7 linked regions of the Homo sapiens genome follow. The protein of the gene in region 5 purifies or fractionates together with the protein of the main gene of each other region. This does not show direct contact. Each region holds a gene or a part of one and is shown on either strand. Other genes may lie near its edges. The genes, in order: ADK, NUP210, ETFA, SSU72, KYNU, PEPD and DSTN.

Region 1 (4,262 bases), on a different chromosome or scaffold from region 5:
GTTACCAAGAGATAAATTCACAAAAAATCTGATGGAAATATGGGTAATTTCAAAACAATTGTAAGTATTTTAAAGATCCTTAAAAAAGATAAAAGAAATAATGGTCATAAAAAAACATGAATCAAAAATAGGTAGATATGAAATAGATGGCTATATTAAAGAAAAAATGGAATTATTGAAATTAAAAAAAAAATAGGTCAGTTGAACTCTAGACCAGACAAATTTGAAGGGAAAATTAATGAATTGGAAGAAAGTACCCAGATGTATCACAGAGAAATAAATAGGAATTAACAAATATGAGCTGGGCGTGATGGCTCATGCCGGTAATTCCAGTACTTTGGGAGGCCAAGGCGGGCAGATCACCTGAGGTTGGGAATTTGAGACCAGCCTGACCAACATGGAGAAACTCCATCTTTACTAAAAAAAAAAAAAAAAAAATACAAAATTAGCTGGATGTGGTGGTCCATGCCTATAATCCCAGCTACTCAGGAGGCTGAGGCAGGAGAATCTCTTGAACCCGGGAAGTGGAGGTTGGGGTGAGCCGAGATCGTGCCATTGCACTCCAGCCTGGGCAACAGCGCAACTCCATAAATTGAGAGGCACCAACTTACATCTAACTGGGAGTTCCAAAAAGAGGAAATAATGTGAATGGTGGAGAAGCCAGGTTGGAAGAGCTGATGGCTGAGAATTTACCAAAATTTAAGAAAGACCAGTTCTCAGCTTGAAAGGGCATTATATGTATCTAGTAAGATGGAAACAAAAATATAAACTAAAACTTCAGAGATTTTCTTGCTAATTATATTAATGTATCTATTATAGAAAGACTGAAAATTTAGACACTCCAAATTTAATAGTGGGCATCTTTAGGTGGAAGAATTATGAGGTTTAAAAAAAAACTTGTATTTTCCAATGTTTCTACACTGAACATATTAGGAATCTTGCTTTTAAGTTGGAGAGACTTGAAGTACACTGAATATATAAGTGGCCAAGTGCTGTGTGGCTAAATATTATCTTTACAGAATGGACCTCTGGGATACCAAATACCTCTGAAACTTGGTAACATAATTATTATGACTTTATTGTAGGCTATAATCTTTTAAGCTATATTTCTGAAATCCCAAAGCTCTGGAAGCTGGAAGTTTTTTAAAAAGTTTGAGATGAATTAATTTGGCAGCAAAATTTGAACTGATGTAAAGGTGTCAGTAGTATTTATTTGTCTGACACAAATGTATATGCTTTGCTATGGAAATATTAGGCTGTTAATGACATGCCACATGAATTCCTCCTGGGTGTTCTACAAAATATATAGTGCAGTGTTACCTTCCTAAAATCCATAAAATTCTGAATTCCAAAACATACCCTGCCCCAAGGATTTAAGAAAGGGTTTGTGGACTTTTATTACTTATTTATAGTTTACTTTTAAAAGTTGGCTACTGTGCAGGAACAATAATTTCTCATCAGAGTTAGTTCCTAGATTTTTTTCTCTAGTCACTGTTCTGCACTTCTATGATACTAAGTAGATGCTCATTTCAAAGATACTTTTTGGCTAGCTCTACTGTAATACCAGTACAGTTGATGTCACTGAGTTATTAGGCTTTTCTTCCTCTCCAGTAGTAACTGAAAAGACAGACTTCTCTTCAACTTTTGGACTTGAAGATTTGGAAGGCTGTTTTACAAAATGGTCTCCCAAACTGAAGTTTCACATACTGCTTGAAGAAGATACATTCTGATGATTTATCAAAGCAGATTTAGAGTTTTTGCTCTCATTTATGTGTATTATTTCTGATGTTGTTTGTACTTTTGGCTTCGTACCATTTCTTTAAAAATTTGGTTCATACACTTCAGATCTAGAAGCAATGTGATTAGCCTTTGATATAAGAACATCTGAGTTTCTATTTGCATTTTTACTTTCATTGCATGCATGCTGACTTTAGTATTTTCTTTACAATTTAGAAGATATATATGTATAGCAATTATGTAAGAAATTCTTGCCTTCTGTAGGCACAACAGTTTGGTTACTGTATTAACATGGTCTTAACCATTTTGTCAGCAAGCCACATTTGGTTAGTAGTGAGTCCTGCTATTTTACTATGTTACCTGCAAACAGGATTGCAGATGTGAAGGTAGCCTGTGTGATCATTGGTCACTCACTGAATTAGGGATTATCAGAAATTATATTGAAGTGGTCACTTGGCTACTTGCCTTCTACATGCTTAGGCTAGACTTTGGTTCATACTTAGAACCATTTTGAAATCTCTGAAAGACTCAGTTGACTCAACCTAACTGGAAAGTCCATCTAATTTTTTTTTTTTTGAGATGGAGTCTTGATCTGTCACCCAGGCTGGAGTGCGGTGGCACGATCTCAGCTCACTGCAACCTCCGCCTCCTGGGTTCAAGCAACTCTCCTGCCTCAGCCTCCCGAGCAGCTGGGATTACAGGCATGCACCACCATGCCCAGCTACTTTTTGTATTTTTAGTAGAGACAGGGTTTCACAATGTTGGCCAGGCTGGTCTCAAATGCCTGACCTCAGGTGATCCACCTGCCTTGGCCTCCCAACGTGCTGGGATTACAGGTGTGAGCCACAGCACCTGGCCTAAAGTCCATCTAAATATGACTCAATCTAGGAGTTCACCGCTTGTCTCTGTTGTCCTTTAGATTCAATTTATCTCTCACGTAGGCCATTTCAGTGTAACAAGATGGCAGTTCTCAACTCCAAGCCAAAATCTCATGAGTCCAAAGGAAGAGAGTTTTTCTATATGCTTGTATCAGTTTTGAGAGAAATTTGGTTCTGCCTGTGTTACACACTACCTTGAACCAGTTGAGGTAGGAGGTGGGGCTCAGACACTGGACCAAATTGAGGACTAGCTAAAACAGGGACAGAGTGGAATCAGCTTTCCGTAAGTCACACCTACTAATGTGCCATGTCAGTTTCCCATTGCCACGGCAACACCCAGAAGTTAGCGTCCCTTTTCATGACAGTGTCCTGGAAGTTACCACCCTTTTCCTAGAAATTTCTGCATAATCTGCCTCTTAATTTGTATATAATTAAAATTGGGTATAAATATGACCACAGAACTGCTTCTGAGCTGCTACTCTGGGCATACTGCCTATGGGGTAGCCCTGCTCTGCAAGGGGCAGTACCTCTGCCGATGCTTTACACTGCTGCTTCAATAAAAGTTGCTGACACACCACTGGCTGACCCTTGAATTTTTTCCTGGATGAAGCCAAGCACCGTCCTGGGCTAAGCCCCAGTTCTGGGGCTTACCTGCCCTGCATTACAATCACTGTATCAGAGGTGGAGATTTGGGCTGGCCTTGGATACATTCTCACTGTCTGCCCGTCTGTTGTGTGCGTGCATGCAGGTAGGGGTGTGTGCGTGCATGCAGGTAGGGGTGTGTGTGTGTGTGTGTGTGTGTGTGTATGTGTGTGTGTAGGTAGTACTAGGTATATGGGGAGCCAGTGAGTGTAGGCATTGTTCGTATATGGGGGGAAATGGATGGGTGTTGATGGGTACACTGTAATCAACAACTCCGACAGGACCTTGTAGAGTAAGGGAGGTAGTGTCATTCCCTCAGCAAGAGAAAAATCCATTTTAGCATGTACAATATTTATTAAAACAACCTTCCTCTTCTCCCCTTCCAAAAAACCCGACAACCTCAGTCTTCAAGGTCTAGCCAAATTCTCTCTTCTCTATAAAACTTTTCTACTCACCAAACCTAGAAATGGTTTCTCCTTTGACTGTTTGTACTTTATACTTTGCGTTATTGCAATGTACAGTATGTGCATGTTTTATCTCACCTATTGCTACTTGAAGTTGGGAAACTAGTTGAATAACTCTTAGTGCCTCATAACTGATCACTTCATTGCAATATAACAGGCTCTGAATTTCTGTTGAATCAAGGAATTCCTATTTATTTTTTTGAGATGAAGTCTCGCTCTGCTGCCCAGACTGGAGTTCAGTGGCATGATCTCGGCTCACTGCAACATTCACCTCTCAGGTTCAAGCAATTCTCCTGCCTCAGCCTCCCGAGTAGCTGGGACTACAAGTGCACACCACCACACCTGGCTAAATTTGTGTATGTGTGTGTTTTTAGTACAGACGGGGTTTCACTGTGTTAGCCAGTATGGTCTCGATCTCCTGATCTCGTGATCTACCTGCCTCAACCTCCCAAAGTGCTGGGATTACAGGCATGAGTCACCGCGCCTGGCCTATTTATTTTAAAATTTTAATTAATTTTTTTTTTGTTTTTAGAGACAGGGT
Region 2 (3,797 bases), on a different chromosome or scaffold from region 5:
GCCTGCGCCAGGAGAAGAAGTGCCAGGGTACCAAGAACAGCTGTGGGCCCGGGCCTCCAGCAGGTGGCCTGGCCCTCTGAGACCACCATCCTTACATCTAAGAGGGACCTGTGGACTGCCCTGTAGACGTACAGTAGGGCAGGAACGTGATGGGATGCCACAGTGGGCCTGGTGGTTTTGGTAACTCATCTTCCCATTGATGGCAGATGGAGCCAGCCTCTTCCAGCACTTCCTGGATTCCTACCAGGTCATGTTCTTCACGCTCTTCGCCCTGTTGGCTGGGACAGCGGTCATGATCATAGGTGAGGAGGCTGCCTGTATCTCTGGGTCTGTTCCCCTGCCCCGACCTGCTCTAACCAACCCTGTGCTCTTGCAGCCTACCACACTGTCTGCACGCCCCGGGATCTTGCTGTGCCTGCAGCCCTCACGCCTCGAGCCAGCCCTGGACACAGCCCCCACTGTGAGTAGCCCCCCTGCAGGCACAACCAGGCAGAGCTGCTGAGAAAGAGAAGAGCCCTGGGGGAGGGGTCGAGGCTCCTGAACCCTAAGTCTCAACAGGCCCTTGCCTGGGCCAAAGGAGCCTGAGGCCCAGAGGACAGATGTGGGAGCCAGGAGGGTCGGGGCAGAGGGGCTGCCAGTCCTGGTTCAGCAAGAGCTTTCCCCAGGTAGAGCCATGCTGGGTGGAGGTATGGGCAGCAAGGAGCTCTGTCTAGGCAGGAGTGCATGCTAGGACTGGATGCCCAATTGCTGAGGCTGCCTCAGAAGGCTCTAAGCTGGGGTTGGACGAGCTGACTCACAGATGGGGATTCTGGGTAGTTCTGATGAGAAATTTCCCAGAAGAATGGGCAAAGTCATTTATTTCAATGGTCTAACTGTCTCTCTGGTGACCCCGAAGCCCTGGTGACCCTGCACAGCTCCAGGGAGCACCTCACTGTGTGAATGTAGTTTCTCTCTCAAACAATGCAGTGCCCAGCCTGTACTGCTGTACGTGAAGGCCCTTTAATGTCTCCTGATTCCCATTTGAGGGTTCTCTCCCCTACACAAAGAGTCCTCGAGCTCGTGTCTGCTGACATGGGGGCCCATGGACCGGCTTCAGGGGGGTCCCTGAATTTTTTTGAAAGAAGACCCAGTTGTGTGGGTAGAAGCACTTTCCTGGGTAAGGAGAGCCCACACGCCCTTGTCTTCTGCCTGACGACTTCTCTACCTGCAAAGCGGCACCCAGGGGAGGCCACGGGTGCTCGGCCTCCTCGCGGCTCTGCTGCCTTCTGCAGCTGCTCTGGCAGCAGGTGCCTGCCCTTTCTAGCTGCCTCTCTCAGCGTGCTCCTCCCTGGGTTTTGGGAGCCACACCTGGATCTCTGCAAGGTCTCCGGAGCACTGCAGAATCGCTGCTCCCCTCGGGGTCTTTGTTCCTGTGGCGCTCTTGCCCGAGGCTGCATTGCATTCAGATGCACGGGGCCTCCCTGCCTCATGCCCCCTGGACAGATGCTGCTGTGGTCCTGAAACTTGAGACACGTTCTCCCCGGAAGGCTCTGCGCTCCTGGGTGTTAGGGTGGCATCCCAGGCCTCTCTGTGTGAATGAGGCCAGCTCAGCAGGTGCCCGTGGACTTCCCTCTGCTGGCCGGGGAGGCCTCGGGGCATCACTGTGAGAGTGTCCTGGGTGAGGCAGGCGCCTGCTGAATGCTGGCTGTAACTGAAGAGTGCGCCGCTTTCCCTGGCTCTGCTGCTAACATCGTCTCTCTTCCCACCCTAGATTTCGCTGCCTCATCACCCACATCTCCCAATGCATTGCCTCCTGCTCGCAAAGCCAGCCCTCCCTCAGGGCTGTGGAGCCCAGCCTATGCCTCCCACTAGGCCGCGTGAAGGTTCCCGGAGGATGGGTCTCAGCCGAGCCTCGTGCACCCCCAAGATGGAACATCCCTGCTGCATTCACACTGGAACAAGCCCCTCCAGATGAGTGCCCCGGCCCCAGGCCAGCTTCACTGCCGTCTCTTCACACAGAGCTGTAGTTTCGGCTCTGCCCATTAGCTCATTTTATGTAGGAGTTTTAAATGTGTGTTTTTTTCCTTTCAAGTCTTACAAAGCTAAGACTTTTTGGCTCATTCCTTTTTGCATGGTTGTCTAGGGTTTCTGGACAATGTGCTGTTGCATTTTTATTTTCCTAGCCTTGCTAAAATCTTTCCCTTCTCAAGACTTTGAGCAGTTAGAAGTGCTCTTTAGAAGTTGTCTGTGGGTGATGTTACTGTAGTGGTCTCAGGGAAAGGATTGTCCAGTTACTTTAGGGGGTTTTTGGTGGGGTTTTTCCCCCTGTGAAAACTTACTTTGCCCCTAGTCTGGCTGCTGCTAGGACTTCTGAGGAGCAATGGGACATGAGTGTCCCTGTATCTGCGCCACTGCCGCAAGGGAAGCCTCAGGAACCAGCACCTGGAGGCCAGGATAGCCAAGCCCTGGGTGAGCGAGAGGCTGGAGAACACAGGAGCTCACCCAGGGCTGCTGCCCAACCATGGGCCACTGTGAACAGACTTCAGTCCTCTGTTTTTGTTTCATAAGCCGTTGAGACATCTGATGGACTTGGCTTAGGCCCTGCTGGGACATCCCACGTGTGATCCCTTTCACTCCATCAGGACACCAGGACTGTCCTTAGGAAAATGTCCTTGAGATGGCAGCAGGAGTCATATTTTCTGTGTGTGTGTTTCGGAAAGCCGCTGTGTCCTGCCTCAGCACAAAGACCCAGTGTCATTTGCTCCTCCTGTTCCTGTGCCACTCCAGAACCTCAGCAGATCTGAGCCACCGCCTGCCAGTGTGAGAGGCGGCCACTTTCATGGCAGCTCATCAGGCGCAGGGCCCCAGACAGCTTCCCAGCAGGCCCTAGAGCCCGGCCTGGGCCAATGATGGAGGGCGGCCGCCAGCCCAGGGCCTGCCCATCCAGAAGGGACTCCCCAGGGCCTGGGGGAGGAGACCCTTGGAAAAGTCCTCTCTTCCCAGCTCCTGATTCTGGATCTGAGATTCTCAGATCACAGGCCCCTGTGCTCCAGGCCGAGGCTGGGCTACCCTCAGGGAGATCCAGAGACTCATGCCCATGGCCATCCATGCGTGGACGCTGTGTGGAGAGTCCAGGATGACGGGATCCCGCACAAGCTCCCTTCAGTCCTTCAGGGCTGGGCCATGTGGTTGATTTTTCTAAAGCTGGAGAAAGGAAGAATTGTGCCTTGCATATTACTTGAGCTTAAACTGACAACCTGGATGTAAATAGGAGCCTTTCTACTGGTTTATTTAATAAAGTTCTATGTGATTTTTTAAGAGGGTGTGATCGTTGCTGAGATTTCTGTCTGATGGTGATGATTTCTTCCCTTTACCCATCTATGATACTCTGGGGCCTGGCAGAGCTGGAGGTCTGAGCTTTATTCTCCCCAAAGGGTGAGCATCATTTTCAAGCACATTCAGGTTGGCAAATGCAAGTGCATCTGGACGCAGCCAGATCTTGCCAGCAAGTGAGTGTGCCCAAGAAGGCACATTGACAAAACCAGGTGATGCCACACAGTTCAGCTTTCTGCTCCCAAGCTAACCAAGCAACTCTCTGTCTCTAATGGTTGCCAGAAAAGGCTTTTAGCACCATTTAGCACTAAAAATATAGTACATCATATAGATTGTTTTTTCTCTAGAATTCTTAAGTCTGGCCAAAAGTGAACTCTCGTTCTCTGTTTCTCTGTGTGTCTTTGTGCATGCTTACATGTGCATTCCTGCATCCTGGAAATGTTTTTTTGTTTTGTTTTGTTTTGTTTTTGTTTTTCGTTTGTTTT
Region 3 (4,262 bases), on a different chromosome or scaffold from region 5:
GTATGTTGCAAATGTGCCCTTTACTCCTAAATAATTGAGTGATATTTTAAAAGAACAAAGAGGTTCACTTTCTAACTACACTGTAATTGGCAATATCTGGAAGTTTCACCATAAAATACTGTTTTCTAATCTATGGATGTTCAATTTTGCCAGTTGTCCCATTAGTACAGTTTATAGCAATTTTCCTTATTCTGGTCTAAGATACTCTAGATGTCCTGCAAGTGGTTTTCATGTCTCTTTACTCTGTTAGAAAGGTTCCTCAGCCTTCCTTTGGGTTTGATGACATTGGTGTATTTGAAGAGTACAGGCCTTCTATTTTCCAGACTGTCACTCAATTTGGGTTTGTCTGGTGTTTCCTCATGATTAGATTCAGGTCATGTATTCTTGGTGGGAATATCACAAAAGTGGTATTGTGTTCCCCGTGCATCATATTAGCAGGTACTTAATGTTGGTTTATCCCATTAGTGGTAATGCTGACTTTAGTTACTTAGCCAAAGTGTTGTTTGCCAGGTTTCTCCACTGTCAAGTTAATACTCCTCCTTTTGTAATTTTTAACTAATTTGTGAGGCGATTCATTGAGACTATGTGACTGTCCTATTTCTCATCAGACTTTTACCCAGTCTTAGCATCTGTTGATGATTTTTGCCTGAGAAATGATTACTATGATGCAAAATGGTGATTTTCTATTTCCATGATACCTTCGTACATTTTTTAGTTATTCTACTATAAGGAAGAACATTATCTTCTTGCATATTTATGGATTTATGGATACATGGATCCTTATTTAGGATAATACATTTCTACCTTATGCTGAAGTTGTCTCATGTTTGTAAAGTGGGGCCCATTCAATCTGACTCCTGTTTGTTTACATATATATGTTTGTGATATCACAAAGTCAAAATAGCTTATCTCAAGTCCCCACTCTTGAAATTAAAAAAAAAATGTTCTGTAGCTAACCATTAATGCATTTAGGAAGAGGATACATTTCCAAAACCATATTTAAAAAAATAAAGTTAGGAATTACAGTTAAAAGATTACCATAAACTGTTAACGATGTGCATATAGTTAACACTTAACACTTAAAAATGGTTAAGATGGGGCCAACCATGGTGGCTGACACCTGTAATCCCAGCACTTTGGGAGGCTGAGGCAGATGGATCACCTGAGCTCAGGAGTTCGAGACCAGCCTGCGCAACATGGCGAAACCCCATCTCTACCAAAAAAAAAATTAGCCAGGCGCCATGGTTCACACCTGTAGTCCCAGCTACTTGGGAGGCTGAGGCACGAGACTTGCTTGAACCTGGGCATTTGAGGCTGCATTGAGCCCAGGTAGCACCACTGCCCTCCGGCCTGGGCAACAGAGTGAGACGCTGTTTCAAAAAAAAAAAAAAAGGTTAAGATGGTAAATTTTATGTATTCTTTTAAACCACTTTGTTAAACTATTAGGATATAAGTTCAATGACTTGCATTTGGTATCTAAGTTCCATTTTTAGTTCTGACTGATTTGTGCCATTGAGTAAAGTCTTTCATCCTTATGTGTGTGGCAATGGTCTTTAAAGTCATCTGTTAACAAAGATAGTTTTTATATCTATAATAAAGAGCTAGAGAACACACCAAGAGGCAAATAGGTAGGCATTTGCAGTTAGTTAATATTCTTGCAGGGATATTAATCCTAATTATTGTTATTTATTAATTTGCTCTTGAAATTGATTTATTGAAGAATAAGAAGATGCAGAAAAATATTTATGTGGTGAGTGAAACAACAATTTCAAGGTCATTTGAGTACTCTTTTTACTGTGTTTATTGTCAGGTGGGAAGGAATATCTATCAGGACTGAGAAGCTATGAAACTGGTGTGAAGGAACATGACACTTTTCTGTCTAGTATTGATGAATAAGATTGAACTCTGTAATTTGCATGCAAATTTTAATTTCTATTGAAAGAAGAAAGAGAGCCAATTTTGGTGTGATTCTAAAAGAAAATTTATTGCATAAGGTGAATTCAGTAAAATTATGATGCCTGCCAATGTGTCTACTAAGAGTCTTGTCCTTTCTTAAAGTGAAGTAAATTGACTGTGTTTTTAGTATTACAGTCAATGTCATATAACATTTCTGGTCATGATTAAAAGCTGCTATATTTTATTACTAAAAGGATTAAAGGAAGTATTTAAAGTACAGAAATATACATTTTAAAAATTACAAAATGTATGTTAAAATAGGGATAGGTGACTTTATATATTATCCTTTTGGGTATGACTCAGAAAGATTTTATAGCTTATTCTTGCTGTTTTTCTTTTTTTAATTAAGAAGCAAAAAAACCGGCTGGGTGCAGTGGCTCATGTCTGTAATCCCAGCACTTTGGGAGGCTGAGGTGGGTGGATCACGAGGTCAGGAGTTTGAGATTAGCCTGACCAACATGGTGAAACCCGTCTCTACTAAAAATACAAAAATTAGCTGGGTGTGGTGGTGCGTGCCTGTAATCCCAGCTACTTAGGAGGCTGAGGCAGGAGAATTGCTTGAACCCAGGAGGCGGAGGTTGGAGTGAGCTGAGATCGCGCCACTGCACTGCAGTCTGGGCGACTGAGCGAGACTCTGTCTCAAAAAAAAAAAAAAAAAGAAGCAAAAAAACCCTCCCCTGCCCTCTATACCCTCATTACACCTAGTTTCCAAAGATGGTTGGGGTGGAGGTATAGGTTACAATCATTCTTACTACTTTAGGTTATGAGTGGGTTTGTAAGGGTAGAGAGTTAGATTCCAGCTTTTTTTCTTCTTCTACCATCTGTGGTACTTTACTATGTGAATATACAGTTCAAGTCACAGCAAGAACTCTAAAAAACTGACAAGCAAAAACAATGTCAAAAATGAGGCTGATGCTGGGCACAGTGTCATGTGCCTGTAGTCACAGCTACTCATGTGGCTGAGGCAGGAGGATCACTTGAGTCCAGGAGACCAGCCTGAGCAACATAGCAAGCAAGACCCAGTCTCAAACAAATACCCACCCCCACAAGAAAAAAAAAAAAACAACTATTGAGGTTGAAAAAGAGAAGGACCAAAATGTGTTCATTGGACTTAGCCATAATGAAGTTTTTGGTGACTTTGGAAAGATTGGATTCAGTGTTGTGAAGGTGAAAGCCAGTTTGCATGAGTAACTGAAAAAATGGAAGGTGAGGTAATAAGAGTTGGTGTCTGTGGAAATTATTTTCAAGAAATTTAGCTTTGAAAGGGTGCAGAGAGGGTGATAACCTCTTTAAATCCTGCCCACAAGAAGTATACTATCTTATAAAGGCCAGTCAACTTTATATGGGTATGTGGCTGGCATGAGAAAGAAAACTTCATATTTTGCTATTTGCAACCAAGTCTAAACAGAGTATAGAGAACTTCTCTAAAAGCATGATGGTGTGTCTGTTTTAGTGATGTAACAGTTTATGTACTGTTTAGTTACCCTTATACATGTTTAGTTGATTACATTATCAATGAGGAAACAGTTGCTTTTTAGTTTTTGATAATTTTAAGAAAAGTTTTCATTTAGTTACTATTCATTGAGTGCCAACTGTGTGCCAGAGAGGTAGATACCAAGTTCACAGTGGAGAACAAGACAGACCTAGTCCCTGCCCTTGTGATGCAAACAGATTAAGGAAGAAACACATTATTTTAAGTGTGGTCATTGTTACAGAACATAGAGGGTGTTTGGGAGAGGTTTAATCTTGTTAGAGGACTGGAAAACACTGAAAGGATATCTGTGAAATTATGTTTGCACACTGAGGTGCCTTAAACTATTGTTACTGAGTGATAAAGTAATAGAGCGGAGGATTTTCTTTCTTTCTTTCTTTCTTTTTTTTTTTTGAGACAGAGTCTCACTGTTGCCCAGGCTGGAGTGCAGTGGCGCCATCTCGACTCACTGCAGCCTCTGCTGCCTGGGTTCACGCCATTCATCTGCCTCAGCCTCCCAAGTAGCTGGGACTACAGGTGCCCGCCACCACGCCCGGCTAATTTTTGTATTTTTAGTAGAGACGGGGTTTCACCATGTTAGCCAGGATGGTCTCGCTCTCCTGACCTTGTGATCTGCCCGCCTCGGCCTCCCAAAGTGCTGGGATTACAGGTGTGAGCCACCGCTCCTGGCCGAGGATTTTCTTTAGATAAAAACATCACTTCATTTTTTAGTTTTGTCTAAAATCATTTATCATTGCTGTATTTTTTCCCCCAATTTTTTTTTTTTTTTTTTGAAATAGAGTCTTACTCTCACCCAGGCTGGAGTGCAGTGGTG
Region 4 (4,262 bases), on a different chromosome or scaffold from region 5:
TCATGATCCGCCTGCCTTCATGATCCGCCTGCCTTCATGATCCGCCTGCCTTGGCCTCCCAAAGTGCTGGGATTACAGGCGCGAGCCACCATGCCCGGCCTAGATTAAAAATTTGAAGACATATTCTCTACTATGAGCCAATGAAATTACTCATTTTGTTTCTATCCCATTTGCTGTCCCTTGCTTTTGGAATTTTGTGTCTTAGTGTGACTGTGATTCTTTCTCTCCTTTTGTCTTTCAGCAAACGGGGATTCAGCGTCCGATCCTTTGGAACAGGGACTCACGTGAAGCTTCCAGGACCAGCTCCCGACAAGCCCAATGTTTATGATTTCAAAACCACATATGACCAGATGTACAATGATCTTCTTAGGAAAGACAAAGAACTGTATCCCAGCGGGTTGCCCTTTAAAAACCCCCCGTGTGGTCCTCCCTGGAAGGTGTTACGTGTGGCTCGGGCACAGGAGGCGTGTCACCCTGTGCAGTGCACACACTGGCTCCTCTGTCTTTGCGAGAGCTTGGTTTCTATTCCTGGTGCACGTCGGATCGTCCACGGGTTAGTTCCAGTGCCACCCATGGCAGTAGGCGTGGTGAGGCGCACAGACACGGTGTGGGGTTCACCCTGACGTGGTTCAGCAGAGGGTCGTGACATAGCGTAGACCAGGGATGCTTAGGTGAGGAGGTGGAACCCACAAAATCCCATTGCTTTTCACACTGCAGGGCTGCCCCGTTATTTCCTTTGCAGGTTGGTGTGCGTGCGTGTGTGCGTGCGTGCCTGATACACATGGAGCCGGGCTGCTTCACACATCTGGTGAGGTCGTTAGAAGGTCAGATAAAGAAGAGGGCGGAGCTTGCTAACCAAGCTGTTAGAAGAAATAATGGGAGAGAACATTCCTTCATTTCAGGAGGACACAGAGCAGGCTAGGTCTGCCGCGAAGACTCCTATAGAGAGAAGAGTATTCTTAAACTAGATTCTGATGGACGCAACACCAGTTGCATAATGGTTATGACAATCAGTGCCCGGGTTTTTGACCAGGCATTTCATGGTCACCCCCACGCTAATGGAAAGTTTCTGGATCTTATTTTGTTATAGTGAGTGATTTGTAGTTTTCAGAACGGAGGCCAGGCCAAACGTATTCCAAATGAAAAGAGAATAGGTGTCAAATGCTAAACCTTTTATCTTCGTGTTGGCACTGTTGCCATCCCCGCCCTCTCCCGACATCCCCGCCCTTGACCAGCATCTCTGGCCTTGCCCAGCATTGTCTATGTATTGGCACTCTTGCCATCCCCGCCCTTTCCCAGCAGAGTCTCACTGTGTCACCCCGGCTGGAGTGCAGTGGCGAGATCTTGGCTCACTGCAGACTCACTGCAACATCCACCTCCCGGGTTCCAGTGATTCTCCTGCTTCAGCCTCCTGGGTAGCTGGGATTACAGGCACGCGCCACCACACCTGGCTAATTTTTGTATTTTTAGTAGTCACAGGGTTTCACCATGTTGGCCAGGCTGGTCTTAAACTCCTGACTTCAGGTGATCCACCCTCCTCGTCCTCCCAAAGTGCTGGGATTACAGGCGTGAGCCACCATGCTCAGCCCTACTCTTGTATTTTTTTTTTTTTTTTTTTTTGAGATGGAGTCAGAGTCTCACCCTGTTGCCCAAGGTGGAGTGTAGCGGCTTGATCTCAGCTCACTGCAACCTCCCCCTCCCAAGTTCAAGCGATTCTCTGCCTCAGCCTCCCGAATAGCTGGGATTACAGGCATCCGCTGTCATGCCTGGCTAATTTTTGTATTTTTAGTAGAGACGGGGGTTTCACCATCTTGACCAAACTGGTCTTGAACTCTTGACCTCGTGATCCAGCTGCCTCGGCCTCTCAGAGTGTTGGGATTACAGGCGTGAGCCACCATGCCTGGCCTCTTGGAATATTTAATAAGCTAAAAAATTCTTATACACAGGTAGATTAATTAGGTAGCCAGGAGTGGCCCCTGAAAGTATGTCTGGCAAAACCTAGAACTGCATCCTAGCCATCACTGTACCTTCTGCCCTCCCTGCTGTCTCCTCTGCCAGTTACAGTTAAAAGGTTGTGGGTGAGGACGCTGGGCAGAGTCCCAGGCGTCTGCTGTCAGCTCCCCAGCCCGGCCTGCCTGCCGAGCCATCTGGGCGTCCCACGGTGGAGAGTGTGGTGCTTGTGACGCGGTGGTGCTGGGAGCCATCCTGGTGGCAGATGTGGGCTCTCACTGCAAGTCAGTGTAAGTCCCCAGGGACTGTCAGCAGCACGTCCTGCTGCCCCTCTCTCTGCAGAAGCCCTGGTAACCTGCGTTTGGAAAAATCTCTAAGGATTTCTGAGGAGCTGTCAGGCCATGTCCTTGTCCACCCTGTGTGGGGCACGGCTTCGACATGGCTCTGCTCCCGTCGTGGGCTGAGAAGGAGCAGGTGGGGCTGTGCCTTGGAAAGGAGGCCCTCCCGACATGCCTTTGTGCGAGGTCCCTGTCCATGCTGTCTCCATCCCGGAGCCTTACGGCGATGGGTGGCCACAGAGCCTATTCCAAGAGTCTGGTTTAGGGCTGGGTCTTCCCATCTTCACCTCTGAGTCTTAGGCGATGCGTGACCACGCAGCCCCTTCCAGGAGTCTGGTTTAGGGCTGGGTCTTCCCATCTTCACCTCTGAGTCTTAGGCGGTGCATGACCACGCAGCCCCTTCCCGGAGTCTGGTTTAGGGCTGCGTGCTCAAGAGTCTGGTTTGGGGCTGGGTCTTCCCATCGCCCTGGAGGAGGCTTTTGTCTCATCTCATGATTCACATTAAACTCTGTGCCATGAAGCTTAGCCTGACATCCTGTTTTTGACAATTACTCTTCAGTTAGCACTGTTTATTTTTAAGTTCTTGTATATTCAGTAAGAGAAAGAAAAGCAGAGAGTGACGCACATCCTCACACTCCCTTGATTGGTGTAAGCTCAGCCCCTTCATGTCAGCCCACTGTGACCTCCTGGGTTCCAGACCTGGGAAGTACTTGCCACGTTCTGCAAGGACTGAGTCCAGCTTCAGCAGTCTCATCCGGAAGGACTTGGTATAGGCAGAGGATGAGCCTGTCTCTGGTCATTCTAAAAGAAGGAGCTGAGCCCAGTGTCCCAGAATTCGGAAGCTCCTCCTTTACAGAGGGACTGTAGGGGTTGGTGATCTCCCAGGAAGCATCGGCCCAGAAGAACCCCGCGTGCGTGTGTGTGCTCTTGGTGTGTGGTGGGGGGAAGGAGTGGCAGCAGGGGTGGCGCTGGGACACTGTCAGCCACGGGCTCTGCTTTGGGGACCTCGTGTGGGAAAGGCATTGCCTGTGGTGGCCCCTCAGGAGGCTCTAGGAGGAGCGTGCCTTCATTACCTTATTTCACTCGGGGGGCGTCTTTGCCCCCTAGGTGGGGGCAGAAGGTGCAGAATGGGAAGCCTGCCACTTAGCTAAAGCTCTTGCACATGATGCCCTTGGCCTGGAGAGGAGTGAAGTCCCCAGGCAGTTCCCTGTGGACACTGGCACGATGCCGGGTGGGGCCTCAGGGGTGTTGAGATGTGCAGGTCGGGAGGACCCCGATAACGTTTCCTGGTTAGTGATGGGTGCAGGGGGGCCGCGGGAAGTGACTGTTACAAGTGAGAGCCCGAAAGCAAATCTGCCCCACAGCAGCCGGTGCGTTGGCAGAAGTCATCGCCGTAAACTGCAGTGGAAGCAAGACGGGGTTCAAGATGCGGCCCAAAGATAAGACGCAGCACTTGGTCGAGTGTTCACAGCGTCAAGACAAAGGACGGGCCGGCGCGGTGACTCAGGCCTGTAATCCCAGCACTTTGGGAGGCCGAGGTGGGTGGATCATGAGGTCAGAAGTTAGAGACCAGCCTGGCCAACATAGTGAAACCCCATTTCTACTAAAAATACAAAAATTAGCCGGGCATGGTGGTGCACGCCTGTAGTCCCAGCTACTTGGGAGGCTGAGGCAGGAGAGTTGCTTGAACCTGGGAGGCAGAGCCTGCAGTGAGCCGAGATCGCGCTACGGCACTCCAGCCTGGGTGACAGAGTGAGACTCTGTCTCAAAAAAATAAAAAAGGAAGGACAGTGTGACTTGGGAGGAAAATGCTGCTTGTTCAGAGGCAGGGCCGGGGTCGAGGGGGACCCCACCACTGCCATCTGCCTACTTGCCATGTGGCCAGGGCTTAGGTTTCTCTGTGCATGCCCACCTCGCAGAATTTCTGATAATTAAATAAATTAGGACATGCACACACTGAGCCCGAGACAGTGT
Region 5 (4,262 bases):
ACAAAGTATGAGTTGAATTTTTAATAGACCTAGCATGTACTTCCTATCTTAAGTATTTTGTCTGCTTCCTGGTGACTGACCAGCTGAGTACCAATGGCATCACCTACAGCTTGCCTGGCCTGCTGACTAGAGGCAAATGCACAGAGCAGCTGCTACTAAGGAGGTGAGACCACAGAAGTGGCAAAAAAAAAAAAAAAAAAAAAAAAGCAGTTTAAATAGAGATGCCTGAAGCAAAAAAGATTACAGATTTTCTTTTAAAAATGTAAGATTTACTCGCTTTTTTTTTTTTGAGATGGAGTCTTGCTCTGTTGCCCAGGCTGGAGTGCAGGGGCACGATCTTGGCTCACTGCAATCTCCACCGCCCGAGTTCAAGTGACTCTTCTGCCTCAGCCTCCCGAATAGCTGGGATTACAGGTGCCCACCACCATGCCCAGCTAATTTTTGTATTTTCAGTAGAGATGGGGTTTCGCCATTTTTGTCAGGCTGGTCTCAAACTCCTGACCTCGTGATCCCCCTGCTCCAGCCTCCCAAGTGCTGGGATTACAGGCGTGAGCCACCGTGCCTGGCCCAAGGTTTACTCTTTTTTTTTTTAACTTTTGAAATAGTTTTACTCAGACACAAGCTAAAGTACTTCACAAGTCATGCAATTAGAACACTCTTAAGTAGAGTGATGTTTGGAGTAAGGTGGGAAGAAGTAAATGGCGTGCATACCTTCGCTTGTCCAGCTTTTGTGATGGCAGGAATATTAAAGTGCTGTCCAGTGTAAAAATGCACCCCACTGAACAGGATCACTGCAATTGAGTCTCCTTCCTTCTCAATTACTTCAAGGATATCCTCTATTCTTAAGGTTTCTTCCCCCTAAATCAAGTTAGGCACAAGTTAGGTCATATCGATAATAATAAATTTGTAATTTCATATTGCCGATCTAAATTTCACCGTGAGCCCTTTTGCATTATAAAATAGTTTTTTTTTTCAGATTAAGGTTCTTTAAAAATCTGGCATAAGAGCAGCATTTGAGCATAATTTTTATTATTAAGAAATGATAATTAAAAAGTAAAAAGTGTTTTTTCAAGTGAAAGTCTTCAAAAGCCGAATTGCTTGATTTATTCTCCAGTTTTTAAAAATTAATTTGTACTCTTTCCACAGCTATAAGTTGTTTTCTCCTTATTCCTGACTAATAAAACACCACAAAGTGCAAGAAGTCCATGAAGTATTATATAGCAAGATAAATTATCAGAAATTGGTATTGCATTTATCAATCTGATATCCTGTTATTGTTTCCAAAAAAAGAAAACATGCCGGGTGTGTGGCTCACGCCTGTAATCCTGGCACTTTGGGATGCCAAGGTGGGCAGATCACTTGAGGTAAGGAGTTTGAGACCAGCTTGGCCAACATGGTGAAACTCAGTCTTTATTAAAAATACAAAAATTAGCTAGGTGTGGTGGTGCATGCCCGTAATCCCAGCTACTTGGGTGGCGGAAGCACGAGAATAGTGCCACTGCACTCCAGCCTGGGTGACAGAGCAACTCTGTCTCAGAAAAAAACTAAACTAAATTAAACTAAACCAAAGAAAACATAACACTTACACATCTTTTATCTGAGTTTTACCTAGCCAATATCTTCTATTAGATTAAGATTAAAATCTCCTCCAAACTAATCTAAAGCTCAAGACCCAAACAAGAAGAAAAATATCAATAAAACTGACTATAATAGAGGGTTTTTTCCTTATATCTTGCCACTACAACTAATAATTGATTACTTACTAAAGGTTGTGAATGAATTTAGATTTGGTCTTGCAAACAACTTGAGCTGAAAAAAATTAGTTAAATACAAAGTACCTATGTGTATCCTGTATCCTAGCAATTCTGAAGTTTTCATAATTTTTTTTTTTTTTTGAGACGGAGCTTCACTCTTGTTGCCCAGGCTGGAGTGCAATGGTGCGATCTTGGCTCACCACAACCTCCACCTCCCAGGTTCAAGTGATTCTCCTGCCTCAGCCTCCTGAGTAGCTGGGATTACAGGCATGTGCCACCACATCTGGCTAATTTTGTATTTTTAATAGAGATGGGGTTTCTCCATGTTGGTCAGGCTGGTCTTGAACTCCCGGCCTCACGTGATCTGCCTGTCTCAAACTCTCAAAGTGCTGGGATTACAGGCGTGAGCCACTGCACCCAGCCATGAATTTTCTCCAGTGCTGTCTGACATGATTTTGAGGTCAATGCATCATTAATTACGTTAATATTTGGGGGAAGCTCATTAAGATATTATCCTATAGTTTACTTTTAATTTTTAATTATCTTGGTATTTGCCAATTACTCTGCTCCATGTTAAGAGAGTACGTGTGTGTGTGTGTGAGTGTGTATGTGTGTGGGTGTGAAATAAACTCTCTACTAGAAGAAACCAGGAATTTGTTTACAAAATGGGCATCAATAAAAATTGGCATCCCAATATTAATGGGATTGTTATTAAAATATCTGAATTATTAAGTGAAGTATACTTTATATAAAGAAAAGAATGTCATTAATTGTAAGTAAAATTGATAACTTGGCAATCCAAAACTCTTTATTCTTAAAACAATCTAATAAGGTTTACCCACCATAATTTCCAATAAAGTGGTAAGGAAAATATTATAGATACTAATACTTAATTTATATCTTAAAAAATCAGTATTAAGCACATAAGAAATACATTTTTCAACGACAGGATACGGCCCTCTCTCATGTTGACTTGTTCTAGGTAATGCTCAACAGTGGTCCCAAGATTATGAGTAACTCATGAAACTCCACAATATTGGTCACTTATGTGATTATTAGCAGCTATGTTCATTTTTGCTAGAAATTAACAATTTATATCCTCTCAATTTATATCCTCTCATGTGAGAACTTTTTATTCCATTAATTTATTGTATGTTGGCAAATGGAAGTGAATAGAGTACATCTTTAATTTATTCAAAGTAATTCTGGGTTGAAAGAAGTAATTGTCCAAACAATGACTAGCGGTCTGGGAGCATCTTATGTGAAACCTAAAATTTATTCTGTATGATTCGACTAGTGACAAATTACACAAGCTGCAGGGTTTAAATGTCAAAGTCTGTGAGCCTTTTATCTCTATTAATGTAAAGTACACATTTAGATCTTAGGTCAAGCCTGATTAGACACATGCTTTTGTTATCTGTTTAAATATAAAGGAGTCTCAGAGAATAAAGTAACTTTCCCAAAGTCACATACCCAGTAAACTGGAGAGTCTGAGATTTCACTGGAAATATTAGCCAGACTGTAAAGCCAAAGCTCTTCCCATTATACCACATCCCTTTCTCCACTATCCTAGTCTAAACACAAAGAAAATGTTTGATACTTAGAGTAAGAGGGGACATGAAATATAGTCACGATTCCATTTTAACAAATAATTCTGGTCTTTAGCATGATTTTAATGGCACCCATGGGCATGACATTTGGAATTGAAAATGATATACTAAATTTGTCACCCTTTTCCCATCCCATTGAAGAATATGGCAGAATCCAGTGGTATTAACAGAAAAATAGTTTGCTTGCCATATGGCTAGCCCTTGAAAAATGAAAATAAATACACATCTGAGTTATTCTCTATTTTAAGCAAAATGATCTAATAGTAACAGAAGTATAGGTCCTTCATGCTTTCTTGAAAGTTCCATTAAAGTAATGAAGATTTTAATAAACTTTTGAGGAAAATGAAGAAAAAAATCAATACTAAACAAAGCATGACAAATATTTCTTTCTTTCTCATATACCTCTCTTGGCTTTATCATCCGCATACTTTCTTCAATGTTAAGTCCGTGAAGTTGTAGTTGTGACTCAATAGCATACTAAAAAGGAAAGATGATGTATTTATCAAATCAAGCTGAGAGCACAGAAGTACATTGAAATAACAAATAATAAAGTAAAAATAAGGGCATATTATTATATTAAATCCAAGGTGAAGGTTAAAACACCTAAACAAAATACACAACAGAGAAGAACCACTTAATAAAATTCACATATAGAATTCTGAACATTCTTTGAGATAGATGAAAACAGAGGGATCTCCTTGACTTAAGGAATTATAAGAGATTTTAGAATAAGAAATTAAATCATCTAATCTAAGTCAAAACCAGAATTTGCAAAATAAGCAAAATGAATAGTAGGGACTTGTCATCCTTGAACATAGGATATAGAAATGGCTTACCCTAGGAAGAGTAAGTTAGCTAAAAAAAAGGCATTAAGAAGTTTACTTCATTAAGAGTACCA
Region 6 (4,788 bases), on a different chromosome or scaffold from region 5:
GACTCCAGTGTAACCTACGGCTCAACAGGGGTACACGTCCAGGGCAGTTCACCTTTGCCTCTTTTTGGCTCTGCAACAGCTCCTGGGAGCCACTCAGTTAAAGAATTAAGGCTATTTCTTCATCCTACCCCTCGGAATTCTGTCCCCATTCCCCACCATGACTCCTTCCCTCAATCACTGGGAGTCTCCCAGGAAAGCAGGATGGGATGCTGGACTAATTTAGAGTAAATCCCCTTTTCATTCATTTCACCAAGCACCAATCACAGGGCAGCCACAGACTGGCCCTGCGGATACAAAAGAACCCCAGGGGTTCTAAGGATGCTAGGAGAGGCATGAAGGGAAGCAACTCCTAACCCACAATGGGCAGACGTGTAAAAGTGTACTGCTGGGGAGAAAACTGAGTGTTCTGGAGTTCTGAGCACTAAACCTTTACCCGAGGGCTGGGAAAGGCTTCTGGGAAAGGGAACCATCTGAGCTGGGCCTGCAAATACGTGAAGAATCATATAGAGGACAAGAACATTCCAGGGCTAGTTGGGTGAGTGTGCAAGGGAAGAAGGGAATGGAAAAAGCCATGTGGGAGAGCAGATGCAGACAGGTCTGGCTGGAGCTGACAGATTTCAAATTATCAATCCTGTCTGTGGAAAGCTCAAAGCATTGCTTAAGGAGACAGCAGCAGTGCCACCAAGTGCCATGGGATAGGGACCCCTCTCCATGAGGGGATGGGAGGTGACCTCAGCGCACTCTGTCTCAACCTGAAGCCTACACCCAGGCTAGCAAGAGAAAGTAGGATCAACCCTGAAACACCCCACATCTTAAAAAGAGAGATGCATTCAGAGTAGATTCTTGAGTTTCAAATTAAATCTGAGATGCTAGTTTAGGGCTTCCCCTACTCCCCAAATCATATGGGGCACACCCCAGTCACCTGGAACTCTCATGGACCCCCTCTGTCCCAGGCTCTGGTAGGATTCTACAGACAACCAAACCCAACTCCCAGTGAGCCCACGGCAATGGCCGTGACTTGCTGGCATCATGCCTCGTTATGCCTGACTCTATGATCTGTTCTGTGAGTGTGGCTAGGAGCTGAGCTTTGCGGGAAACACACTTAATCATTCTGCTCTAAAGGAAGCCACTGGGGTCAACCTCAGGCTCAAAGTACATGGGAAAGCCCCATACCAGACTGGGATGGCTCTTCCCAAGGAGACTGCCAGGCTCTGGAAGCTCCCACACCCTCTCAATAGCAGACCTCTCTAAGACCTGCCACTCTGTTTTGCCTCCCTCACCCACCCTGTGTGGTGGCCCAGAGAATCGGTTCTGCTAGAAAAGCTCTCATTCTGGGGCCAGGCGTGGTGGCTCACACCTGTAATCCTAGCACTTTGGGAGGCGGAGGCGGGTGGATCACCTGAGGTCAGGAGTTCGAGACCAGTCTGGCCAACATGGTGAAACCCCATCTCCACTAAAAATACAAAAAATTAGCTGAGTGTGGTGGCACACGCCTGTAATTCCAGCTACTCAGGAGGCTGAGGCAGAAGACTCGCTTGAACCTGGGAGGTGGAGGTTGCAGTGAGCCATCATGCCATTGCACTCCAGACTGGGCAACAAGAGCAAAACTACGTCTCAAAAAAAAAAAAAGAAAGAGAAAAAGAAAAGCTCTCATTCCAGGATCCAGTCAGTTCCAGACTTGCTCCCGTCCAGACATCAGCTTGGTTCCTTCAGGAGAGCAGCAGGTCTCAGGCCAGCTTGGAATCCTGAACCCAAATGCAACCCCTGGCACTCCCTGTGAGCACCGAGCCAGCCTAACCAGAGAGACAGCACACCCACAGCTGGGCACCAGCCTGCTCAGTCTACCCTTTAAAAGGGTCACAGGCTGGATTCAAGGATCTGACCCTGAGTTCCTTGACACCCATCTGAGACTTTGTCTGCACTGTTCTCTACCTGAAGGGAGTCTCATTGCTGAAGGACTAGCACAAAAGTCACCCAGGAAGTGAAGCCTTCCCACACTTTATCTGAGCTCAGAGTCCATGCCCCTCCTTTGCAAATGGCAAGACCACACGGCAAGCAGATGGATGACAGAGTCCCATGTGTCCATCTGTTCCAGTGGCCTGTGAGTACCTTAAGGGAAGACCCACTGCTATTCCTGGAATATAGCAGGTGCCCACAAAATATTTGATTTGTATGCTCTAAGCTCCCTCAACCTTGGGGGCCAACTTAGAACCCACTTTCTGTTGCCATTTTCCCTGTATCTTAAAAAGAGAGATGCATTCAGTCCACTAGATCCCCCATTCTGACCTCAGTTTCCAACCTGGCATCTGGAATACTGCTCCCTCCTACACCATGCCCCCTCTACCCCACTGTACCACCAGACCCACACCTTCTCCCATTGAACTCACACATAGCTCAGGGGAGCCTAATCTTTAAAAAACAGATCAAGCAGCTTGTAACAAAACCCTTCCAGCCCATCAGGGCAAAGTCTGAAGCCGCCACCTGGAACACCACACCTTCCAACCAGCCCCAGGCATGCACCCCTGTCCCCAGAACACTCTGAACTCTCAACCTTTGTCCCTTACCCTGGGCTCAGATGCTCCCTATCTGGGAGATTCCGCCCAACGCTCTGGTGAACCCATCTGTCCACCCTTCCTCCCACTACGACCACTCAGCTTTCTTTCATTTAGCCCAGTATGGAGCACCTACTGTGTGCAAGGCACCGGGCTACTGAGAAGCAGGTAACATACCTGCCCTTGCACTCTAAATGCAGAGAAGATAAAGAACAAGTACAAACAATGCTCTATATAGTTTATCAGGTGATGATGAGGGCACAAAAAGTGGGATAGATGGTTAGAGAAGGATTCCCTGAGGGGGTGACATTTGGCCCCTGAAAGAAATGGGGAAGTGCCCTGCTGGGAAAAGGGAATTCCAAGTCCGTCTCGAATACCGCCTCCTCCGGGAAGCGCCCGGGTCCCTGGGGTCCTCGCAACGCCGCCCTCCTACCCGGGGGTCTTGGCAGCGAACATGCGTGTCGACCCCAGCCCCCACCGCAGCCGCACACGGTGGGGCCGCCAGACGCGGGCAGGTGGGGCCGGAGCCAGCCAGGAGGGTGGAGAGGAGCTGCGGCCCCCGCGCTGACCCTGACTCGGAGCGTGCAGCTCGCCGACCGGCGCTGGGACTCCGGGCCAACGGGAAGAGGCGCCTACCCGCGGCATTCAGCGACCCCGGCTGACGCTCTCACCCGCGGTCCGGCCGGGACACCCATGCCCCTCTCCACGCCAGCGGGAAAGAGCGAGGGAGGCGCAGCACTCACCCGGTGGCCGCCGCCATGTTCGCCCGGCACCGGCGTCACGTGAAGTGCGGCGTCAGCTGAGCCCCTCCGGGTGCCAATGCATGGGGCGGGGTAAGGGCGGGGCAGGGGGCGGGGCATGGAGTCCTTGACCCACCTCCTCCAGAGCCAAATTCCACGGGACGGGAAGGGGCGGTACCTGGGGAAGGGCGGAGCCCCGATGGGGCGGGGCTCCCGGAGATTGGGGGCCCAAGAGCTCGGCCAGGATAAATGAGCGGGCTGCCGGCTGCAGACAGTAGGTCGGGTTAGCGGGCAGCATCTGCAGCCTTTTCGTGGTGGGAGGGAGGTCCTGAAGCAGAGGACATCTTGATTCTGGTTCAGTCCCCGATCTGGCGTACCAGCCCACCCGGGAGAAGAACACATAGGAATAAAGAAACCACGTGGGAGGAGAGGAGGGAGACTGACCCAGGCTAGGGTCGGGGCAGAGGTGGCGATTTTTGTTTAAGAAGGGAAAGGGCTTGAGCAAAGGCCGTGGGGCAACTGGAGGACTCTAAATGTGCAGCGTCCAGGAGAATGTGCGCGAGAGAGGGGCAGCCTAAGGGAAGCAAGGGCCAGACCCTGCGGGGCCTCCACTGTGGGGCCTATGAGTTAAGTCTGGTAGGATCTTTTCTAGGTTTCCTGGGCTGCAGAATGGAGAAGCTGGAGGAAGGGAAGCCAGGGAGGAGGGCAGGCGAGAAGTGGGCACAGCCGAGAAGGGTTTAGGAGGGAGAGTCTGCCAGAAGGCTTACTCCTCTGCCCCACTGGGCACTGGTACTGGGTGCAGAGTCCTGCAGAGAAGGTGTAGGGACCCTGCAGCAGACGCTGCCCTCCCTACTGCCAACAGAGTCAGGGCATTACAAGCACGGCCCAAATGCGTTGCACATGTGAGCTCATAGAAACCTCACCACAGCCCTATGAGGTCGAGACTATCTTTAAGTCTATTATACAGATGAGGAAACTGAGGCCAGAGAGTGCTCACACAGAGGCTGAGCTCATGAAGCCATACCCTGAGGAGTGACCTCACTGCCCCTGTGAAGGAAGGGGGCCCCACACTGTTGGGGGAGGGCGTCCCTGGCGCCAAGGGTGTACAGATGTGTGTGGTGTACAGATGTGTGTGGACAGGTGGATGGGTGGCCCAGGATAGGCGTGTGGGGCTCCTGACCCCACCCTGCAGCTGTCCCACAGCTGGAAGTGGCTTCTGATCAAAGGTTGTGGGTTGGGGGATGCTTCTTGTTTCTTTATCGAAACAAGGATGTGGGTCACCATGGCCAGGCTGGTGGGAGCCAGGGGCTATGACTGGAGAAGCAGCTTCTGTTTGTCCCCATGAAGCAGGGAGGAGAATAGGCCCCTTAAATAGGAGCAAGGGAGCCAGCCATAAGCAGGGTAGTGAAGGGCACGTGGCACAGTTACCTGGAAGCCCAGTACCATCCCTGCTGTCCTCATCTGTCAGGAGAGAGCTAATGGGGCCACCTCACAGG
Region 7 (4,262 bases), on a different chromosome or scaffold from region 5:
GGGTGGTGGCTCATACCTGTAGTCTCAGCACTTTGGGAGGCCAAGGCAGGACAATAGCTTGAGGCCAGAAGTTTGAGACCAGCTTGGACAACATAGTGGGACCTTGTCTCTACAAAAAAAATTTTAAAAATTAGCTGGGCATGGTGGCACGTGCTTATAGTCCCAGTACTCAGGAAGCTGAGGTGGGAGGATCACTTGAGCCCAGGAGTGCGAGGCTGCAGTTTGCTATGATCATGCCACTGCAGTCCAGCCTGGGTGACGAAGTGACACCGTATCTCAAAAATAAATAAATAAATAAATAAATAAATAAATAAATAGCTATTTTTTACCTTCAGATCAATGGAAAGCCACTGGACTGTTCTAAGTATGGTGATCAGATTCATGTTTATGTAGAGGATGAATTGGAGGGTAAAGGTGATGGGCAGTTGGTATGGGCAGTCTTGTTGTATTAGAACTGCAATAACAAATTAAATTCAAAATCTCAGTGACTTAACACAGTAAAGATTTGTCTCTGTCACGCAGAGTCCAGAAGGGTTGGGCAGCCTTCTCCTATCATGAAGTATGCTTACCAAGGTCATCTTGGTGGGAGAAAACAGAGCTTTAAGATCACTTTTATTTAACTTTTATTTAATTTTTGATGTTTTAAAAATCATTTTATTGTGGTAGGATTCACATCTAAAAAGCTGTATTTAGTGTATTTAAAGATCACTTTTAAAGGGCCAGGACTGGAAGTAGTTTACATAACTGGGCCCAGCTTGGCTGTTCAGAACTCAAATGGCTGTTCAGAACTCAGTCATACAGCCAACTCAGCTTGCCAGGAAGGCTGGGGAATGCAGTCTTTCCTGTTCAGCCAAGAAGAGAAAACAGTATGATGTATACATATCCTAATCTCCCTCCTCTGCAGCCACTTGAGGAGTTACTGCAGTCCAAGTAAGAGGCAATGGAAGCTTGGACTGAGGGTGAAATGAGATGAATGTATCAGAGAAAGATGAAAATCCAAAGAGTAAGATAATGGAGGAGTTGCTAAGAACATCTCTTAGGCTTGGAGCCTTATGTGACTAGGAGGGTGGTGATAGCTACTGAGAAAGGAAGACTGGTTAGAAATGGACCAGCTTGTTTTTTATTTTAGACATGTTGTGCATCACATGCCTTTGAGACACACAACTGGAGATGTGAGATAGGAAGTTGAATGTAAAGACTAGAAGCTCAGAAGAGCAGAAGTCTGAACTAAGTTTTGGCTTAGATGATTGAAAGCTTGAGCTTGGGTAAACTCTCTGAGGAAGAATGCAGAGTTCGTCCTTTCCTTCCACACTGCCATCAGCCTCTGCTTTCCACTGCATTGTCCTACCACCCTCACCCCTTGACCTCAGCTGACCTTTTGGAGGTCCCCAGAGCCCTTTTTCTTGTCCTTAGGTAGTTCCTTTTGGAACTCCCCGTCATAGCTGTTCTGAATTGTTAGTAGTAGTAGATTGGAGGAGTGCCCTCAAACCCATCCTACTCCTCCTGCCTTATACTTCACAGAGAAAATAGAATCTTTCAGACACAATTTTTGGCAGTGTATCTTCCTTCCACCTCAAAACTGTCATTTTCCCTTCCTCCCTGTTTCAGAGAAAAAAATGTGTATCTTTTTCTTAGGCTAACTCTCCCATCTGTGCTGTGGATCTTACCCATTTCTTTAGATCTCTGATATTGTTAATTTTATGAGTGATTAAGATTATCTCCTCTGGAATTGCTTGAACCCAGGAGGCAGAGGTTGCAGTGAGCCGAGATGGTGCCATTGCACTCCAGCCTGGATGACAAGAGCGAACGTCCATCTGGAAAAAAAAAAAAAATCTCCTCTGGAGCCAAATTGCCAGAGTTCAAATCCCAATTCCTCTATTGTTTACTCTGTGACCCTGGGCAAATTATTTAATTTTGCTATGCATCTTTAAGATGCAAATAGTGATAGTAGCTGTCTCATAGAATTGTTGTGATTTAGAAGTGTCTAGCAATAGTAAGTACTCAGTGTATGTTTTAATTTTTTTTTAATGTTTTGGCTCTTCCTCTTTATTCCTTCAAGTTCTTAAATATCTAGAACAGTTACATCTCCCCAATCATAAGACAACTTGCATGAAGTACCATTCAATCTTCCCTTTTTTCTTCATTGTTAACCATCTTATGTTTTCTGTCTTTACCTCTTCAATTCCCCATGGGTCCCCAGTCCATTATGGTTGACTTCTGTCCCATTTCTCCCATCTGTTGAAATGTTCAGAGGCCCAATTGCCAAGCCCAGCGATCTGTTTTCATTCTCTGAAATACTGCAGAATTGGCTGTTGATGACTTTCCTCCTCAAAATATTCTCCCTTGCTTCTAAGATGCTGCTTTCTTCCTTCTTTTTCTTCTTAGTTTTCTGATTACCTCTTTTTAGTGTCCTTGATGGGTTTCTCTTTTTAATTTTTACGTACTCAGTGGTGAGAAACTAGATTGGTTTTTCTTTTGCTGCTTAATGTTGGTGACCCCATGGTGTGGGCTAGTCCAAAATATGGATTAGGTGAAGCCTTCCAACGAGATCCGTGCTCATATTTCTGCCACTGTCTGGTCATCTCCACCTAGATGTCTTGCACAGTCTTCAGAGTGGATGTGTCGTACTGTGCCATATTTCCTTTTCTGTTCATATATTGCAGTCTAGTCACTAATCGAGAGAATCCTGGGGCTTCTCTGATACCACTCTTTTGTGTCTCATTCAGCTATATTGGTTTGACTTTGACATGTCCTTGAATTTTTCTGTTTTTAACCTCACTGCTGTAGTTCAGAGCTTTCTTCTCTGAATATTTGTAATTGTGTCAAAATTGGTTTTCTGCTTCCAGTTTCTGTGCCAGTTTCTCCTTCAAGTATTCAGTGTTAATTTCCTCAAGCACAAGTGTCTAATGGTATAAGAAACCTCCACAGACATCACTTCTGATAGAAAAAAAGACAAAATTCTTCCTTACTGAGGCTTTTAAGGAGCTTGTAAGTTACAGCCAGATTTGGCTGAGATTTATCTGTTTTATAATTGCAGAATGCACATTTACTTTGTTTTTGATTACTAGTACATCATTGATTTAATTTACAAATCAGAATTTAGAATGTTTGAGATGCTTAGATATTGATTGATGTATTTAAAGATTGGTTGATTGAATATAAGGCTTTAGATGTTGCCTTCCTGCTTTTAGAAATTGCTTGTTGGGTCAAATGTGACTTCAACATTATGGACTAGGGAGTTAGAGGGATTGGGATCTGTTTCTAGTTCTTCAATTTTTGTTGCTTTGAACATTTTATTCATCTGTTGCAAAATGGAGATTCTTAACTTGCTTAACATAAGATACGTTGTAAAGATCAGAAATATGCTACTCCTAAAGCAGTAAAAGGTTTAAGAAAAGTGCTTTTTAAAATTAGGAATGTGGTAATATTGTGTACTTATGAGTTTTCTAGTCCTAATTTTCTGTTTCTGCCACTTTATTAGAGTGAATGTTCATTTATGAACAGAAAATGTGGAGTAGATGGCATTGGAGTGTGTTATTTAGAGATCTTTAATGAATGAGATGATGAAATAGCCCAGTTACCTTAATATTAAGTAAATGCTAGGATCTTAGTGTATCTTTCTCCCAGGATTCTTGCATGTGTTTTAAAGTGACAACTTTATTTTTATTTGTTTGTATAAATGTATGGGGGTACAAGTGTAATTTTGCTACATGCATGGATGGTAGCAGTGAAGCCAGATCTTTTAGGGTATCCATCACCCGAATAACATACATTCTACCCATTAATTAATTCCTCATCCTCCCCTGGCTCTCCATTGTCTTTTATTTCACACTGTGTCCAGGTGTACACATTATTTAGTTCCTAAGTGCGAACACATGGTATTTGTTGTAATAACTTTATTGAGGTATAATTCACATACCACAAAGTACAGTTCAATTCAGTGGTTTTTCAGTATATTCACAGTTGTGTATGCATCACTCCTGTCAACTTCCAGAACATTTTCATTACTTCAGAAAGGAACCCATACTCATTAGCAGTCACTCCCCATTCCCCTTTTTTCTCAACCTCTGGAAACCACTAATCTACCTACTGTCTGTTGATTTTACCCAATTTGAACATTGCATATAAATAGAATCATGCAATAGGTGCCCTTTTCTGTCTGGCTTCTTTCACTTAGCACAGTGTTTGTCAAGGTTCATCCTTGTAGCATGTATCAGTACCTCATTTTTTTAATGGCCAAGAAATATTCCATTGTGTGGATA

The links.
Region 1: the proteins of KYNU (region 5) and ADK fractionate together in Homo sapiens (co-fractionation; one large-scale study listed by BioGRID). This does not show direct contact.
Region 2: the proteins of KYNU (region 5) and NUP210 fractionate together in Homo sapiens (co-fractionation; one large-scale study listed by BioGRID). This does not show direct contact.
Region 3: the proteins of KYNU (region 5) and ETFA fractionate together in Homo sapiens (co-fractionation; one large-scale study listed by BioGRID). This does not show direct contact.
Region 4: the proteins of KYNU (region 5) and SSU72 fractionate together in Homo sapiens (co-fractionation; one large-scale study listed by BioGRID). This does not show direct contact.
Region 6: the proteins of KYNU (region 5) and PEPD fractionate together in Homo sapiens (co-fractionation; one large-scale study listed by BioGRID). This does not show direct contact.
Region 7: the proteins of KYNU (region 5) and DSTN fractionate together in Homo sapiens (co-fractionation; one large-scale study listed by BioGRID). This does not show direct contact.

The regions. Positions count from the first base shown.
Region 1 is NC_000010.11:74,157,298-74,161,559, forward strand, and holds part of ADK (adenosine kinase), read left to right. Parts: intron 1-4,262. UniProt on the Homo sapiens protein: Catalyzes the phosphorylation of the purine nucleoside adenosine at the 5' position in an ATP-dependent manner. Serves as a potential regulator of concentrations of extracellular adenosine and intracellular adenine nucleotides.
Region 2 is NC_000003.12:13,315,735-13,319,531, reverse strand, and holds the end of NUP210 (nuclear pore membrane glycoprotein 210 precursor), read left to right. Parts: intron 1-206; coding exon 207-302; intron 303-376; coding exon 377-460; intron 461-1,750; coding exon 1,751-1,851; 3' UTR 1,852-3,297; downstream 3,298-3,797. UniProt on the Homo sapiens protein: Nucleoporin essential for nuclear pore assembly and fusion, nuclear pore spacing, as well as structural integrity.
Region 3 is NC_000015.10:76,304,620-76,308,881, reverse strand, and holds part of ETFA (electron transfer flavoprotein subunit alpha, mitochondrial), read left to right. Parts: intron 1-4,262. UniProt on the Homo sapiens protein: Heterodimeric electron transfer flavoprotein that accepts electrons from several mitochondrial dehydrogenases, including acyl-CoA dehydrogenases, glutaryl-CoA and sarcosine dehydrogenase.
Region 4 is NC_000001.11:1,560,896-1,565,157, reverse strand, and holds part of SSU72 (RNA polymerase II subunit A C-terminal domain phosphatase SSU72), read left to right. Parts: intron 1-241; coding exon 242-385; intron 386-4,262. UniProt on the Homo sapiens protein: Protein phosphatase that catalyzes the dephosphorylation of the C-terminal domain of RNA polymerase II. Plays a role in RNA processing and termination. Plays a role in pre-mRNA polyadenylation via its interaction with SYMPK.
Region 5 is NC_000002.12:142,957,220-142,961,481, reverse strand, and holds part of KYNU (kynureninase), read right to left. Parts: intron 3,842-4,262; coding exon 3,767-3,841; intron 859-3,766; coding exon 712-858; intron 1-711. UniProt on the Homo sapiens protein: Catalyzes the cleavage of L-kynurenine (L-Kyn) and L-3-hydroxykynurenine (L-3OHKyn) into anthranilic acid (AA) and 3-hydroxyanthranilic acid (3-OHAA), respectively. Has a preference for the L-3-hydroxy form. Also has cysteine-conjugate-beta-lyase activity.
Region 6 is NC_000019.10:33,518,449-33,523,236, forward strand, and holds the start of PEPD (xaa-Pro dipeptidase), read right to left. Parts: upstream 3,344-4,788; 5' UTR 3,313-3,343; coding exon 3,296-3,312; intron 1-3,295. UniProt on the Homo sapiens protein: Dipeptidase that catalyzes the hydrolysis of dipeptides with a prolyl (Xaa-Pro) or hydroxyprolyl residue in the C-terminal position.
Region 7 is NC_000020.11:17,593,803-17,598,064, forward strand, and holds part of DSTN (destrin), read left to right. Parts: intron 1-4,262. UniProt on the Homo sapiens protein: Actin-depolymerizing protein. Severs actin filaments (F-actin) and binds to actin monomers (G-actin). Acts in a pH-independent manner.